Regions from separate parts of the Homo sapiens genome. Here region 2 is linked to region 1. Evidence: fine-mapped expression QTL. Tissue or cell type: whole blood. Region 1 holds a variant in brackets; the other region holds the start of a gene. All regions are shown on one strand. Distances are from middle to middle.

What was found. PIP is the estimated chance that this variant, and not a neighbour inherited with it, causes the effect.
Region 2: it holds the start of ACTR3-AS1, and the variant in region 1 is fine-mapped to the expression of ACTR3-AS1 in whole blood (INTERVAL, PIP above 0.99).

The regions. Positions count from the first base shown.
Region 1 is chr2:113,925,237-113,933,574 of GRCh38, reverse strand. It overlaps ACTR3 (actin related protein 3), which reads right to left. Exons shown (of 12, transcript NM_005721.5): 4 at 6,120-6,230; 5 at 2,179-2,274. Among named protein-coding and RNA genes, the nearest start is that of ACTR3-AS1, 38 kb to the right of the region's middle. The variant C/AC (reference allele first, on the strand shown) is at 4,445.
Region 2 is chr2:113,887,334-113,895,671 of GRCh38, reverse strand. It overlaps ACTR3-AS1 (ACTR3 antisense RNA 1), which reads left to right and starts at 4,680. Exons shown (of 5, transcript NR_110174.1): 1 at 4,680-4,779. It overlaps ACTR3 (actin related protein 3), which reads right to left and starts at 5,583. Exons shown (of 12, transcript NM_005721.5): 1 at 5,349-5,583. The coding sequence starts at 5,392. It overlaps LOC124906071 (a long non-coding RNA gene), which reads left to right and starts at 5,905. Exons shown (of 3, transcript XR_007087205.1): 1 at 5,905-7,609. RefSeq lists enhancers at 4,643-4,822, 4,873-4,922, 5,005-5,660, 5,693-5,782, 5,903-6,212 and silencers at 5,053-5,312, 5,553-5,612.

The DNA of each region.
Region 1 (8,338 bases):
TATTCAATACATATATGGCTATAAACAACTATTACTAAAAGATTACCTTCTTTTTCTTTTTTTCTTTGAGACAGAGTTTCTTTCTGTCACCCAGGCTGGAATGCAGTGGCACGATCTCGGCTCACCGCAATCTCCGCCTCTTGGGTTCAAGCAATTCTCTGCCTCAGCCTCCGGAGTAGCTGGGATTACAGGTGCCCACCACCACACCCGGCTAATTTTTGTATTTTCAGTAGAGACGGGGTTTCACCATCTCAGCCAGGCTGATCTTGAACTCCTGACCTTGTGATTCACCTGCCTCAGCCTGCCAAAGTGCTGGGATTATAGGCATGAGCCACTGTGCCAGGCCTACCTTCAAATTTTTTTAAGGTAACATGTGTTTAGGACTATATGACATACAGAAAACGCCATCGCACACCTCCAAATACTACTATGATTTAATTATGGAGCAACGTTGATAAAATTTTTCTATGAAAAACCTTGGTACAGACAATACAACACAATTCTTTTTTAAGTGTGAGAATTAAGAAATTAACATAGTTCATTTTTTAAAAAACTAAATTTCTTACAATCCAAGCCTCAAACAAAGTATATGACTAGTAATTAAAAACAACTAAACTTATACTGGACTTATTTTACCTACCTGGACTGTAATAGCTAAAAGGGACCTAGAAAGCTATCTAGGTCACCCTCCTATCTGAACACAAGATCATATTAACACAATCACCACATAATCACTATAGGCTAACAGAACTATACATTATTTTTTGACAATCTTAAAATGAAAAATTCCATCCTAATACTAGTTATATATATATATACTGTTTAGACTTCATTATGAGATATCCTTCCTCTATAAGTAAGTTCAAAACTATCATCTACAACCAAGAATTATCTCTGATCACTTTTACAAGTCTTTTGTAAACAGTTACGGTCCCAAACTAGAATAGATATGTATCAGCACATCATGTTACAGAAATGTTATTGACTACTGAACATCAACAAAACAGAACAGAGATTAAATAATGAAATTAAGAGCACTCAGAGGCCACTAAGGAAATCACTGAAAAACCAAATTACGACTCCAGAGGAATGAAACAAAGCTCATGATGCCAGTGTTTTAAAGTAAGCTTTACCTGACAATATGGTTAAACATAAGTTTATTATATTTAACATAGGATGAGAAGCAAAAACTCCCAAGTGAAAGATGAATTTTCCCAACTCCTCATTTTATTCATATTCTAAGAACTAAAAAAGGGCCTCCCACTCAAGACTGAATTCTTCTATAAAGTTCATGACAGGTTTAAGTGACTCCTTAAATATTTTTAGCAGCAGAGAATTTAAAAGGCAGTTCATTAAATTTATGGATTGCATTAAACATTAAAAAGTTCTTTGCTATCCAAGTTAAAATATTCATCCATAATTATCACTTATTGATTCTGTGTACCGTGGAGTTACAAAAACCAGTGTGATCCCAAGAAAGAGCAAAGTCAGACAGACCTCAGCTGCCTGGTATCACAGCTAACCATTTAATTATGAATAAAGTGCCTTCCAGCTTTAGTTTTCTTCCTCCACAAAAAACAGAAACAAAAATATCTACATTTAATAGAAATAATGAATTAATACACATATAAAGCATTTGTGTTATGTCAGGGATTACCTCTGCTACAAGGGAAAAAAAAAAAAAATGAGGTCAGCTCTGATCCTGAGGGGTGGGAGAGAAGCTGTTCCATACAGATAAACGTACAAATTAAGAGAAGTGAAATATTAGGGTGTCAAATATACCTAAAGATAAGTCAATCAAAAAAGACTACAATAAAGGACAAAAAGATTTATAAGGATAAATGATAAAGGATTATTTACAAGGATAAATATATATACAATGTTCTTGTCACAGAGAAAGCATTCCATAAATATTAGTTCCTTCATTTCTGTCCTATGAAAGCCCTTGAAATACCCAAACACCACTAACTTACTTTTTTAACACTTCTCTTTTCCTGACTAAATATCTCCACTTCCCATAATATTACTTCTAAATTAACAATTCAGGAGAGAAGTATAACATGCTTTGACATTATGTTTAAACCTTTGCAGAAAAAAAAAAAAAGTACGTATTTTAGGCAGCAAATTAAACTAGGTTAAAATGTAAGAATCAAACTTAGAAAGTATGAACTTGCTTACCTGCACAGCAATGTACAAGCCTGGAACATTGAAGGACTCAAACATTATTTCAGCAGTATATTCCCTGTTTTCTGGAGTATTCAATGGAGGTTCAGTCTATTGAAATAAATAACATTTTAAATAGATAATATCAGATTATTTTGATAACTTTCTTGACAATTTTTAAATGAGAAGTAATTTATTTCAAACATTTTATTTAAAATGCATTAAATTTACAAGTAGAAAGACAGACACAGAGATCAAAGGAAAACTATAGAGAATTCAAACATCCATACATATATGAAAACAGTATGGTAATTCACATTTTAAAAAAAAAATACCCTGAATGCCTATATCATACCACTTATACAGATTAAACATTAAAAAGAAATGAAGCAGGGAGAGAGAGGGTTGGAGGTAGGGAAAAGGTGGTCCAGTCAAATCATCCTTTAAATATGGTAATGACAAACCTCCAGAAAAAACATCAATGGTATTTGCCAGTGGGAGAGCCCTCATCTAAGTAATGCTTTTAGATGAATGTCCCCGAAGTATATAGGATTACAGTAAACAAGCCGAGATTCTACAGATCTAATGGTACAGCTTTCTGAAAAATGTTATATTAATTTACCTGTTAAGAGCATAGAATCAAGATGTTTGCAGAGCACTCTTCTGTTTATGTGACTGTATACATCACTTAGAAACCTCACAGGTTAAGTCTGGGACAGAACACACTCTAAAGAGGCAAGGAAGGACTCAGAGATCTGGCAGTCTTGGACTTCATATTTCACCTATGCCTCATGATCACTTAAACTGTTTCAATTTTTAAAGATTAACACTGGGTAAGACCTCTGATTCTTGTGAGTCTGACTGGCAATCTAATAGGTATCTCAAATACTTAAATGTAAAAGAAAAATTTTTAAATTTAAAAAAGACACAGAATTCTCTTTTTGACCTTAAGGTAGGAATAACTCCTTAAATTTCTGAAGTACAAATCACAAAGGGAAAAAGTGATAAAACTTGAATCCATTAAAAATTAAATATTTTTAAAATTATTATTTCAAAAGAAATATAAAGCAAAACAACTAAGTATACTGTTACCTTACATAAAACCTTTATAAGCTAAACTCCCTGTGGTGTTTAAACTTCTTTAGAAGAGTTCTGGAGCTATGTTTAAAAGTCTGGAGATAATTTACTGATGAATACATACAAAATTAAGTAAACTAAAAACCAAGGCAGTGAAATTATAAACTCCAAGAAAAAAAATCTACATAAAAGATAATCAGAGGACCCCACAAAGGAAAATATACAAATAGCTAATAATAACAATCGTACATGAAAGACTGCTCAACATAATTATCAGAAAATGAAAATTAAAATTAAAAGCAAATGAAAAATCGTACACACCCACCAGAACGGCTAAAATTTTAAAGACTGACAAGCTAGCAGCGCAGTGGCTCACATCTATAATCCCAGCACTTTGGGAGGCCGAGGTGGGCAGATTACTTGAGACTAGAAGTTCAAGACCAGCCTGGCCAACATGGCAAAATCCTGTCTCTACTAAAATTACAAAAGTTAGCCAGGTGTGGTGGTGCATGCCTGTAATCCCAGCTACTCAGGAGGCTGAGGCACAAGAATCCCTTAAACCTGGGAGGCGGGGAGGTTTCAGTGAGCCAAGATCACACCACTGCACTCCAGCCTGGGTGACAGAGCAAGACTGTCTCAAAAAAAAAGTATAAAAGATTGATAAGCCAAATCTTGAATAGAGCAAGCAGATTACTAATGCATCACTGGGGGGTGTGCAAAAAGGTTCACCATCTTGGGAAAAGTTCCCATGAGTTTCCCTAAAAAACCAATCAGGTACCTACCCTATGACGCTGCAATTCCATACTTACGTATTTAGACAAGAGAAATGAAAACATATGTCCACAAAAAGTCTTGTAGAAGAAGGTTCACAATGGTCAAATTATTTTATTATAACCAAAAACTAGAACTAAGCCAGGCATGGTGGCAGCACTTTGAGAGGCCATGGCGGGAGGATCACTTGGAGCCCAGGAGTTCAAGACCAGCCTGGGTGACAAAGTGAGACTCCATCTCTAAACCAGAACACATTACCCAGGTGTGGTGGCCCGGGCCTGTGTGTCCTAGCTACTCAGGAATCTGAGCTGGGAGAACTGTTTGAGCTGGGAGGTCAACACTGCAATGAGCCATGATTGATCCACTGCATTCCAGCCTGAGCAACAGAGCAAAACCCTGTCTTAAAAAAACAAAAACAAAAACAAAAAAAAAA[C/AC]AAAAATAGCCCAGGTATTCATCAACAGGAAAATGGATAAAGTGAGGCAAATTTATACAATGGAATACTACCCAGCAACAAAAAGCAACAAATCACCAGTATATGCAACATAATTCAATCTCCAGATTATGCTAAGTAAAAGTGTTTCACCAAAATGCACATATTGCATGATTCCATTATTTGACACTCAAACATGGGCAAAGCTAATCTCAGATGAAAAAGAAACAGTGGTTGTCACTAGGGCACGGGGGCAGAGATTAATTACAAAAGGGCATGAGAAAACTTTCCACGCTGATAGTAATTTCTCTATATCTTGGTAAGAGTTTAGGTTACACAGATGTATGTAACTGACAAAGATTGGACAAATCACATCATGCATCCTGCAGGTCAAATACAGCCCACCACCTGTTTTGGTAAAAAAAAAAAATTTATTGGAACACAGACATACCTATGAATTTAAGTATTGTCTATGGCTGCTAACATGCTACAACAGCACAGCTGAGTAGCTGTGACAGGGACCATTGTATAAAAAGTTCTCATTAAGTTTCCTCAGGGACTATAACCCCTGCAAAGCCAAAAATATTTGCTATCTGCTCCCTTAGAAAGTTTGCCAAACCCTGGTCAAAATCCACTGAATGGTGCAGACCGGTGATTTTATGATATGTAAATTTTATATGAAAAGAATAACCATACACAAATGATAGCTCTAGTTGATGAAATACGTGCTAAAGTATTTAGGGGTCAAATGACTCCCATTTGCAACTCACTTTGAAGTGATTTAAAAACTAAAATGAAGTGAAAGATGGATAGACGTCATGAAGCAATTATAGCCAAATGTTAAGGTTAATCATCGAATCTAGATTGTGGGTGTATGAGTGTCCATAGTATGGTTCTTTCAACTTTATAGTCCATCACAATCACCGAAAGACACAGAATATTGATTTAACCAAAAATTGTGATGTAACTACAATGCGAGGAGTGGGAAAGGATAGGTATTTTGTGTTGAGGGAGAGAAAAGGTAAAAAGGGAAATTCTCATTTTTCCTATTAGGAAGTTGGTAAATAATGTATAATATTCTTAAAGACAGAAGAAATAAAAAAAAAATGTTAAATAAAAGAAACATGTTAAAAGATTACTAGCAGGGCAAACTTTGTTAAAATTGAAAATGTTTGCCTCCGGGGAATATGAACCAAAGGTTGGGAGAGGTAAGAAAGGAAAGTGTTATTTTGTTGTTTTAAATCTTATAAAGTCATTTGATTTTTTAAGTTATGAACATGCACTGCTTTAATAAAAAGATGTTTAATAAAAAGTTAGATTATATTGTATTTTTGTTATGAAGAAATACCAATGATATAATAATCAGACTATTGTTTTTTAAGCAAAAAAGTGCCACAGGTTTCCAACATTTTTCTGAACATTACTTACTGTTTCTATCATAAAGATTAGACATTAACTACCAAAAGCACTTCTTAAGTGTTTAACATGTGGTGCTTTGACATACTACTATTCTCCTGTAGCCATAACTAGATGGTCTTAAAGATGATACAGCTTTATTACAAAGTCATTTAGACATATGACAATTTAATAACCAAAGTATACCAAAGAAGTATGATGAAAATGTTCTCATTAAGTGTATTCAAAAATTTCCTCAGTGAAATTATAACTTGTAACTTACCAAAAGAAAATAATGGTCTTCAGGTTCTGCCCTTAAATATTTAAAGATCACTTGCTCCATAAACCTTTCCATTAAGTCCCAATCTTCAACTATACCATGGCGGATTGGCCACTATTAAAACAAAAAGGGAAATACAAATTAAATCTTATTAATATAAAAAACAAATAAAAATACAAAAAAGGAAATATCAGATCATTAGTGGATATTAGATGAGGATATATTCATAGGTGTGATACTATAGAACATCCTTAAAAGATGTGTACTTAAGGATTTAAAGATAAATTAGTTCAATAACGCATTGTCAGATGGATGGTTCAATAAAAACAAAGTGAATATGTCAAAATGTTAAAAACTGTTAAATCTACATGGAAGACCATTGTACTAGTCTTTCTAGATTTTAAAAGTTTTGTAATAAAAGGATAAGTTAGCCTACAAAAATTAAGCCTAAAAAACTATACTTTATCACAATTTCCTTAATTTTTAATGCATTAGGCCATTAACAAGTATTTGTTGTATGCCGAATATAAAAAGTGCACCTGTAAGTACATACCTAGAATAATTGTAAGAATCAAGCACATAAAATGTTATAAGAAAAGTTTTATAAATGTTTAAGAGTCATGCTTCCAAAACTGTGTGCTAAGATACCTACTATGATTTGGATGTGGTGTGTTCCCACCAAAACTCATGTTAAAATTTAATTCCCAGTGTTATAGTATCGAGAGGTGGTAGGGCCTTTAAGAGGTCATCAGGTCATTAGAGGAATTAATGCAGTTCTCAGCAGGACTGAGTTAATTCTCCAGAGGGTTGAAGGCAGGCTGTTACAAAGTGAAGTTGTCCCTTGTATTTTGTCCCTTTCCTCTTCCATTCCCCAACATGTTATGAAGCAGCATGAGGTCCTTACCAGAGGTTGATCAGATGTGGCCAACTCATCTTGGACTTCCTCACCTCCAGAACCACAAGCCAAAATAAACCTCTTTTCTTTATAAATTACTCAGTCTCAAGTATTCATTATAGCAACAGAAAATGAACTGAGACAGCACCCCAGTGTACTACCATAAATTCACAAGGGCGCCGCAAAGTTATTTTAAATTTTCCAGGGAAATATAGTGTTACTCAACATCAGTTGGACACTGCGTGATCTACAAGTCACAGTAATTCAGTTTCAACAATAAATCAAACTATTATATATTCCTTTCAATGACATTATTTCTTACAGAAGTTGGTTTGTCAGCAGTTGCTGGCATAAAAACCAAGTTATCACATAAAATAACATCGATATAAAACAAGAAATCAGGGTGGCAATGTCCCATCTGATTCCAGGTTTGAGAAGCTGAGCGATGCCTAAGCATCCTAACAGAAATGTGATTACTCAGCAGTGAAATAACGTTTCCAATTTAAGTGTCTTATTTTTTTCAAGTGGCTACTAAGTTGCCTGGACCTAGGTATTTAATAAACAGAACTATCAGACATTTCTTTCGATCTAGGTGGCACAGTGAAAAACGTTACTGAGACCCTAACGGCACTGAGAAAGTTTGTGAACCTCTGCAACAGAATATAATTCCATGAACATAATACACATTCAATACCTAAAGTTAAACAAATTAATGAACAAAGAAATAAATACCTTGCAGTATCAATCCCTAACATCTACTTCTTACTCTAGTTTCCACACTACTTTTTAAGGCATTATACTTATAAAAGGACTTCTACTCCCCAGTTTGCTTTAAGGAAGGAAAAAATTGCAGTTTACTTTATCATTCAATTTTTAACATTATTAGAAGTTTACAAATTCAAATGTTTTAAGTATTATTTATTCATCAATTATTACTGTGTACCTACTGTAAGCCACTGGCACAAATGCTAAGGACACAGACATCCAGCATACAAAAAACTCAGTCTAGCAAAAGAAATATATACGAACAAATATTACACTACAGGTTTTTAAAAAAAATAAAGTTCCGACTGGGCGTGGTGGCTCATGCCTGTAATCCCAGCACTTTGGGAGGCCAAGGCAGGCAGATCACCTGAGGTCAGGAGTTTGAGACCAGCCTGGCCAACATGGTGAAACCCCGTCTCCACTAAAAATACAAAAATTAGCCAGGCGTGGTGGTGCATGCCTATAATCCCAGCTACTCGGGAGGCTGAGACAAGAGAATCACTTGAACCCAGGAGGCGGAGGTTGCAGTGAGCCAAGATCACTCCATTGCACTCCAGCCTGG
Region 2 (8,338 bases), 38 kb after region 1:
GGAAAAAACCAATCTTTTCCTAACTTATCTCTTCTGCTCCAACTCCACCGCCAATACCAGGTTTCAGAATTTCTGCAAAGTTAGCCCTTGAATGGGCTGCTGAAGAATCATCTAGGAAGCCTATGTAAATGAATATTCATAGTCCAACCCTTGAGATTCTGAGTCACTGGGTATGGGGTGTTTCTGATGCACAGTTTTTTTAAAAACCATACTCCTAATTCTTGTTCATTCATTCATACAACAAAGATTTGAATTCCTACTATGCACCAAGCCATGTCAAACGTTCATCTTCTACGGAAGGAAGATCTAGTGTAGTGGCTCTGCCATACTTACTTGCTACAGTATCTTGGGTAAGTAGCTTAACCTCTCTTAAGACTAAATTTTCTAGCCTATAAAACAAAGATAATACTTTCCAGGTTGTTGTGAAAGTTAATGAGATAATATAAAGCATTTAGCACAGGGGCTGACATACAATTCTCGATAAATGCTAGCTATTATTATTTCCTGAGAAACACAACCTAGAGAGTAATTTTTTTCTAGAGATTAAATTTAAGCAAAGTAACAAGGAAATAGTCTAGGCATTCACATATCGGCAGGGGGGTGGGGGGGGGGAACCTAAACCAAGTAAAGATTACACAGAGGGTTTTCTCTAATTAGGTGAATCAAATTCATAAGGCTGAGATTTTTTTTTGTAAGAGTTCTTTAAACAGAAATACAGTTAACTTTACTAACAACAATGAAGCAACACATAAAGTTCTGAAAAGGCAGTCAGGAGTCCCCGGAGTGTTAACAGAAAGAACACAGGACTTAAATACAGAACTCAGGTCCAAATAGCAGATCGAACCACCTGCCAGGTAGACGGCATCAAAAAGGTAATTTAAATTCTCTCATTCTGTTTTTTCACTTATAAAATTAGGTTAAAAAATAGCTGTCACAGAAAGCATGGCCAGCAGGTCCTCCACAGGACCTTTCCGTTCTGTGCCTAAAATTCTGAACTGTGTTTTACAATAAGCCTGAAAGTTCGTTCACCGCAATATAGTATTTGCAATCCAAAGTCAATATTTCAACACAAAATTGGCAGGCAGGAAAGGAGGGAGAGTCTTTCGCTAAGTCTAAGTAAGAGTCTGACTTCTCACTAGGAGCATGTCTGTTGTACTTACTTCAAACAGCATGCAAAGCATGACTCATCAAGGAATAAGAATTTCAATGAGTGCTTTTTGGTTAAGAAGCTATTGTGAATATTTCTGCCTTTGGAGATGGCTAAAGAAATAGCATTATTAAGCCGGTGCAGTGGCTCATGTCTGTAATCCCAGCACTCTGGGAGGATGAGGTGGGTGGATCACCTGAGGTCAGGAGTTCAACAACAGCCTGGCCAACATGGTGAAACTCTGTCTCTACTAAAAATACAAAATTTAGCTGGGCGTGGTAGTGGGCGCCTATAATCCCAGCTACTTGGGAGGCTGAGGCAGAAAATCACCTGAACCCAGGAGGCAGAAGGAGGTTGCAGTGAGCCAAGATCATGCCACTGCACTCCAGCCTGGGCGATGAGAGCAAAACTCCATCTCAAAAAAAAAAAAAGAAACAGCATTATTATTAAACAATACGCACAGAATTCATGGAAGAAACATGAACTTCCCACATATACCTTCCTTCATTTACCCAGCTTTTCCCCACTGCTCTTCAAACAAGATCATTCTTATCTGCACTAATTGCTGAATTGTGGCCACAAGATGAACATACTCCTCTTTCACTGACACCTACAAGATATTTAAGCTTACATTTTAAGATTGCTAAGAAGTTGAAGTCAGTTAGCAAAATTCCTTAATCTGCTCCAGATATGAATATATCCAAGACTTTGACCATAGGGCTATATTAACCTCTGCTATCATAATCAGTGGAACTAATTTACCAATATTTTATTTACCAGGGGAAAAAAAAAGACATAAAAGGGAAAAGGAAATTCACAATGCAGCTCTGTAACCAAGCTACGATATAACAAGGAGTTAATAAGGAGCGCCCTCATTTGGCTTGAATGATGGAGAAACTTGAGTAAAAACATGCATTTAAAAAAAACCTTTAAGGCTGGGCGCGGTGGCTCACACCTGTAATCCCAGCACTTTGGGAGGTTGAGGCGGGTGGATCACGAGGTCAGGAGATGGAGACCATCCTGGTCAACATGGTGAAACCCCATCTCTACTAAAAAGAGAAAAATTAACTGGGTGTGGTGGCATGTGCCTGTAGTCCCAGCTACTCGGGAGGCTGAGGCAGGAGAATAGCTTGAACCTGGGAGGTGGAGGTTGCAGTGAGCCGAGATCGTGCCACTGCACTCCAGCCCAGCGACAGGGCAAGACTCCATCTCAAAACAAACAAACAAACAAACAAAAAAACAAAAAGCAAAAAACACATTTAAAAAACGATCCCTTCCACCGCCCAGAAAAAAAAAAACCTTAGGATGATCATACAAGTGTTACAATGTTTTTTTAAAAAATGTTTGTGAATGCCTTTTAAAGAAAATGCTTTTCTCACCACTAATAGCAGGTTTGAGTTCTGTTATTTAGTTTTCAAGCCACCAATGGGAATCTATGTGCCCCAACTGTATTTTACAATGCTTTCCAATACAGACCAAAAAAGTGTGTAGATAAGGGTATCAATGTGAATGAAGCATTTCTTTTCAAATTCTTTTCAAAATAAGTATTCTCTTTTATGACCTGAATCTAGGTGATTCATATGTTGAGTTTTGCTGGACGATCCCTAAAAGTTTTGGGCTTAAGTTTCAAGTTTCCTAACTCTTAACAGCTTTCCTATCTAAGACGATCAAGTTTTACAGATGGCCACTTTTTTTCAGCCACCTTTCCCCTAATTTATATAATGAATGAAATGAGCAACCTGATTCAGGTTATAACTTTTTACTTAAACTAAGTGAGTAATTGTAATTTAGAGACCTCAGAGCTGAATGCATTCTCTAAAGCATAAAAAAAATTAGACAAATTACAGGTGCACAATTTGCATTCGGGGACCACAGAATTTTGAAATGTAAAAGCTCCCTGTTAAGGCCATACTTAGAGATGTTTATCTCAGGGTCCTCAACCTCAAGGACTTATCCTCCATGTGCAAATAAAGCTGAAGGTGTAACTTCCCAGGAGGCACCACTGGAAACTTGTAAGACCAAAAAGGCTTTTGAGAACCAAAATAACTGAAACTCTAAAGGGGGAATTTCAGATTGTGACAAATGGTAAAAGAGAGTGAGGTGGCAAGGGGACTCCTAATCAGTTCCATTCAAATCATCAATGTGCAGTTAATAACCTCTCCTTATTGGAGAAACCAATGTAATAACTTAAAAATACACTATTGTGATAATCGTAATTTTAAAACAGAAATAGCCTAGGTTAAATTGAACCCCTCTTCCCGATCCTACTGGTCATTCAGCATGTTTTAAATTCAAGGTTGCCCTTTAGGAAAGGAGGTCACTTAAGGACAGTTTATCTCAATGAAACATCTTGTATACTAATTCGAAACTATTTCAAAAGGGGGAAAATGGAGATTAGAAAAGTAACATACTACTTGAGATGTTACCATATTATTTCTCAGGGCCACAATTATTTACACTATTTTTTTGAAAACGCAGTAATTTCTAAAGCATTAATTATGTAGCAATATTCGTCACTTTAACAAAACACATTTGAAAAGTCCTATCCTACTGACTCAGGCCAAATCTAATTTTAAAACTGAACCTAGACATAAAAATACTCACCAATTAGACTAAGAAGGGAGAAATAAAAAAAATTATTGGTTCAGAGAAATGAGACTGAATTAAGGAAAAACTTTTAAATAAAGTGTTCATCAAAAAAATACATAGAAGTTCCAAGGCTAGTGTTTTCCTAGGAGAATATTAAGAAGTTGGTGGTTTCTCTCTACCTAACTGGGATTTTAGAAACTGCCACACTAGCTAGTTATGAGAATGAAGATTAAAGAAATTTCACATAAAGAGTGAAGGACACACAATCTTTTAAGTAACAATAATGAAATCAATAATTATAATTAATAATAAAAAAAAAAGCCTGACAGTCCACCTCTTACTGACTTCCCCCTCAAAAAAAAAAAACTGGGAGTGTTCTGGGAATTGGAGAGATGTCATCAGCACAGAAAAAAAAACCACTTTCCTATATGTCATCCTGAAGCAGTGATTCTACATAAAAATAAGGGTAGTCTATTCTCTATGCAGTTATGAGTGTGGTACAACTCTCTAAAACGTCTATTAATACAAAATGAACGACCACACTTTAAAGCCACTCTACATTTTCGCAAACTACCCTACATATCTACGAGTAACTATTTGCAACTTAAACACCCTCCTATATACCTCTATACCTTCCTGCTTCCTTCAAGATACCATCACAGAATGAACGAATACAACTTAAATTAGTTTATTTTCCAGGGTGCTTCCTTTCCCCCACTCCATGAAACATAAGTACATTTTTTTAAGTCATATAAATGGACACCAAGCACCGGTAATTCAGTCTCTTTAAAACCTGCTTAAAAGTTCTAGTAAGATGTGCTCAGGTTGGAAACTAAAAACTACCTTATAAGGGTATAAAAGACTGAAAGCAGGAAGCGGCTTTGACAAAACTAAGGAAGTTGCAGCGCGCTTGCTCACTGGGGGACTTTTTTGAGGCTACAGAAGTAACACATGACATCTTTCTCCCTCGAATTAAAATGTGACTTGGTTCACCGGTTAAAACGCAGAGGGAGATGGAAATGACCAGGAGTCGAAAGGAGAAGGTGGGTGGTCAAATGAAAGCCCCACTGTAGGTTCCCATTTTCAGAGTCCGATTCTTCCCTTTCCCCACCCACACCCTGGGCAGAATGTTGTCACAGCGATCTTGTCAAACCTACCAGGAGCGCTTCTCTTTTCTAGCTCCCCTGCCAGGCCAGTCCCCGAGCTCGGCCCCTGGGTCCCCAAACCGACTGGCAAAAACGGGCGCGGAGGGAAAGGAAAGCCGGATGGGTCGGGCCCGGGGACCACCCCCAAGACGACCGTCCCCAGCGCCCTTTGGGCGGCGCTGCCCACCGTAGTGGGGGAAGGGCCGGGAGGGGTCGCGCGGAGAAAGCCGCTGGGAGGGTTGGGGGTTGAATCTCGGGCCCGCGCCCCCGCCCCAGTCCCAGGAGGGAGAAACGAGGGGACCCGCGAGGCCCTGGCTGCGGGCCCCACCCCTCGCTGGCCGGCGGGTCTAGGACTGACAGCCGGCGGCGGCACCTCGCCGCACCATTCATTTCCCGGCCTCCTCCCTCCCCCGCCATCTTCCTTCCTCCGCCTCAGTTTCCCCACCCCCGCCCGTAAGCCCCCTTACCCCGTGCCACAGTCCACCACACAGGCCGGCAGCCGTCCCGCCATCTTCCTCCTCGCCTGCTGCTGCTGCTGCCGCCGTCTGCTCCGTGCTGCTAGGGGCCAGAGATTGGCGGCGGGAGACAAGGGCTATCTGACCATCCACAGCTGGGCCGCCTTCACCGTCCGGGGGGTAGCCGGGAAGCCGAAGCAGTAGCAAGAAAGCAGCAGGCTCGGTCGGCGGCTATCACTTCCGCAACCCAGGCAGGCAGGCAGTCCCCGCCCTGCCCCGCCGCGGCCTCCTCCCCCTCTCTCTTCCCTCCTCCTCACTCCTGCCCCCACCCTACAACTTCTTCCCCTCACGCCGCCTTTCCCCGGGAAGCCAAGATGGCCGCCGGTGCCGACGCCCCGGCCAGGCCAGGCCCAGGCCCCCAGCGCTCCCCCTTCCGCTCCGAGCGGGAGGGGCTAGCGAGCATGCGCAATAAGGTACGTTCGCCTGCCTGGGCTCCGATCCTGAAGTTGGTGAAATCCACTGCGGGTTTTCCAGGAGTGTAGAGGCGGAGAAGTCTATCCGAGCTTCCAGTTCTGCTTCTGAAGCTGGAAGGGGCTTTTCGGTTGTAACCCTTGGGTTAGTTTCAGTTACTTCTTTGCTAGGTTGAGGAAAGGGTGGAAGCGCCTCCTGCAGCCACGAATATCCTCCAGTGCCTGAGAGAAAACGGCCTAATCGAAAACGTCCGCGGCATACATCCATTCTTAAAACTTGAGTGGCTGCTTTTCTGGGTGGAAAAGAGCGGTATCAGACAGGGTGAGCAGTCGGGGAACGGATGAACAAAGACTTGCACCGTGGCCCTGATGCCTTTGTTCCGAGTTCTATTCAGTTGTACTTGTGCGTTGTTACAGGACTTTAGAATGCAGCCCTGCCCCCCAACCCCCACCTCCCAGGGCCGACCTGTGCTCCTAGGAAGGCAAACCTCCCAGGAATATATTCTGCATAACTATACAAATAGGCCTTTATTCAAGGCTTTTGGATTATGACAAAGATTACCCTCAGGAGTAGTAAGATTCTACTAGCAGGATAATAGAAAGGATTAAGGCTCCCCTCCAAAGAAAATTTTTTTAAGTTAGAAACGGAGGCGAGCCGCAGTGGGTCATGCCTGTAATTTCAATGCTTTGGAAGGCCGAGGTGGGAGGATAGGATAGCTTGAGGCTAGGAGTTCGAGACCAGCCTGGGCAACATGGGGAGACCCCCCCCCATCCCTCCAAAAAAGAAAAGAAAACTGGAAAGCCTTAAAGAAACCTTTCAAACTTTAGTGTGTATCAGAATTACCTGAAAGGTTTGTTAAAACAGATTGCTGGGCCATACCCCCAGAATTCTCTGACTGGGCTATCGGAAATAATGCCTGAGAATGTGCATATCTAATAAGTTCCTAGTTCCACTTTAGGACCCTAGAAGGTTAGTATCTTTCCTCTCTACCAGGCTTATCTTAGGATGAACCGTTCGGGGTTTGCTGATGTGAAGCTAAAACAAAAATATTCTTTAAAAGGAGGGATGTCTTATTCAGTCCATAAGATCATCTAATGTATTAAGCTGGCTTGGGGGATGAATCGGGTGTTTCATTCATTCATTTGACAGGTAAGCATTGCTTACCTACTCTATTATGACGGGGTCTGTGCTGACTCCGAATATTCGGTGGGATGCAAAATAGTTAAGTGCTCTTGTAGAGTTTACAGATTAGCGGAAAACAGACAAATTGTGTTAAGAGCAATAGAAAGAAGAGAGCGGAGGACTCTGAGAAATGAAGGCGAGGAGTGGGAGAATGAGAGGAAGGTGGAAGGCAGGTAAGGAGTCTGACCAGCTGGTATTTAAAAGCTAAGATGGGGGGAAGAGTCTCCCAGGAGAGTGAACAGCAAGTGTCAAGGACCTGAGGCAGGAACAAGCTTGGCTTCTTCCACAAATTGAAAGAAGATCCATATGAAAGAGTCAGAGAAGATGCAATGGGAGATGAAGACTGAGAGATAAGGAAGAGTGAAACAGTGCAAGAATTTGTAGACTGCTCTAAGCATTTTAAAGTTTATCTTAAAAGCAGCTTGATAAATTAGATTTATGGTAATTAGTTTAAAAATAAAAATAAAGCAACTTGAAAGGATTTAGGCAAGAAAAAGTTGTGTCTGCTTTGTAGAGAATGGCTCCAGCAGAGTCCAGATTGAATCATACATTGTATGATATTCTGTGTTCCGGAGTTCGCAGATAGAAGTATGTGAGGGCCAGCATCCAAATGGAATCAGGTATGTGCAGAGGAGACTCACTAAAGGGCATCATCATCAATTAGTGCCCAGCATGTCTGCAGCTATTCACGAGAGAAGGCTTTTTTTAGAGGTTGTTTTCAGAGAAGTCAAACAACTGGTTGTCTCAGATTCGTTGTCGTTGGTTTCTCCACTACATTTTAGAAGATGCTAGATGGGGACTCTTTGCTGCCGCTTCTACTACCTGGTAATTAAAGTCTTTTGAGGAAGCATATGCTTGAAGATTGGCTCTGACAGAAAAGACAGATGTGGTTTAGTAGGGGTAGAATAAATGGTTGTTTCCAGCAGTTACAAGTAGTAAGTCAGGAGTGAAGAGATCCTACCAAAGAAGTTTCGAGAGCAGAGGTTAGTGCCCTCGGTCACTTGGGCAGCCCATGCCGGTGGCCCTCAAGGTAGCTGCCCACACTCTGGCCTTGCACAGTTGTCATGGAAGTAGTTAACTCAAGCAGGGTTGGAAACTAGTGCTTCGAGGTCTAGGCAGGTACTGTTATGAGTGAAGGGGGCCATGAGGAGGGTATGGCAATGTGAGAGCCCACAACCCAACAGAAGGCAACAGACAACTGTTGCCATGTGGAAATACAGCCCTGGTATTGCCAGAGCCTTTTTTCTTCCCCAAGAGAAATCTGAAATCTGCATTTTTATCTTTGGTAACTGTAATGGTTTGAATGTGTTCCCCAAAGTTCATGTGTGAGAAATATAATTTCCAGTGCA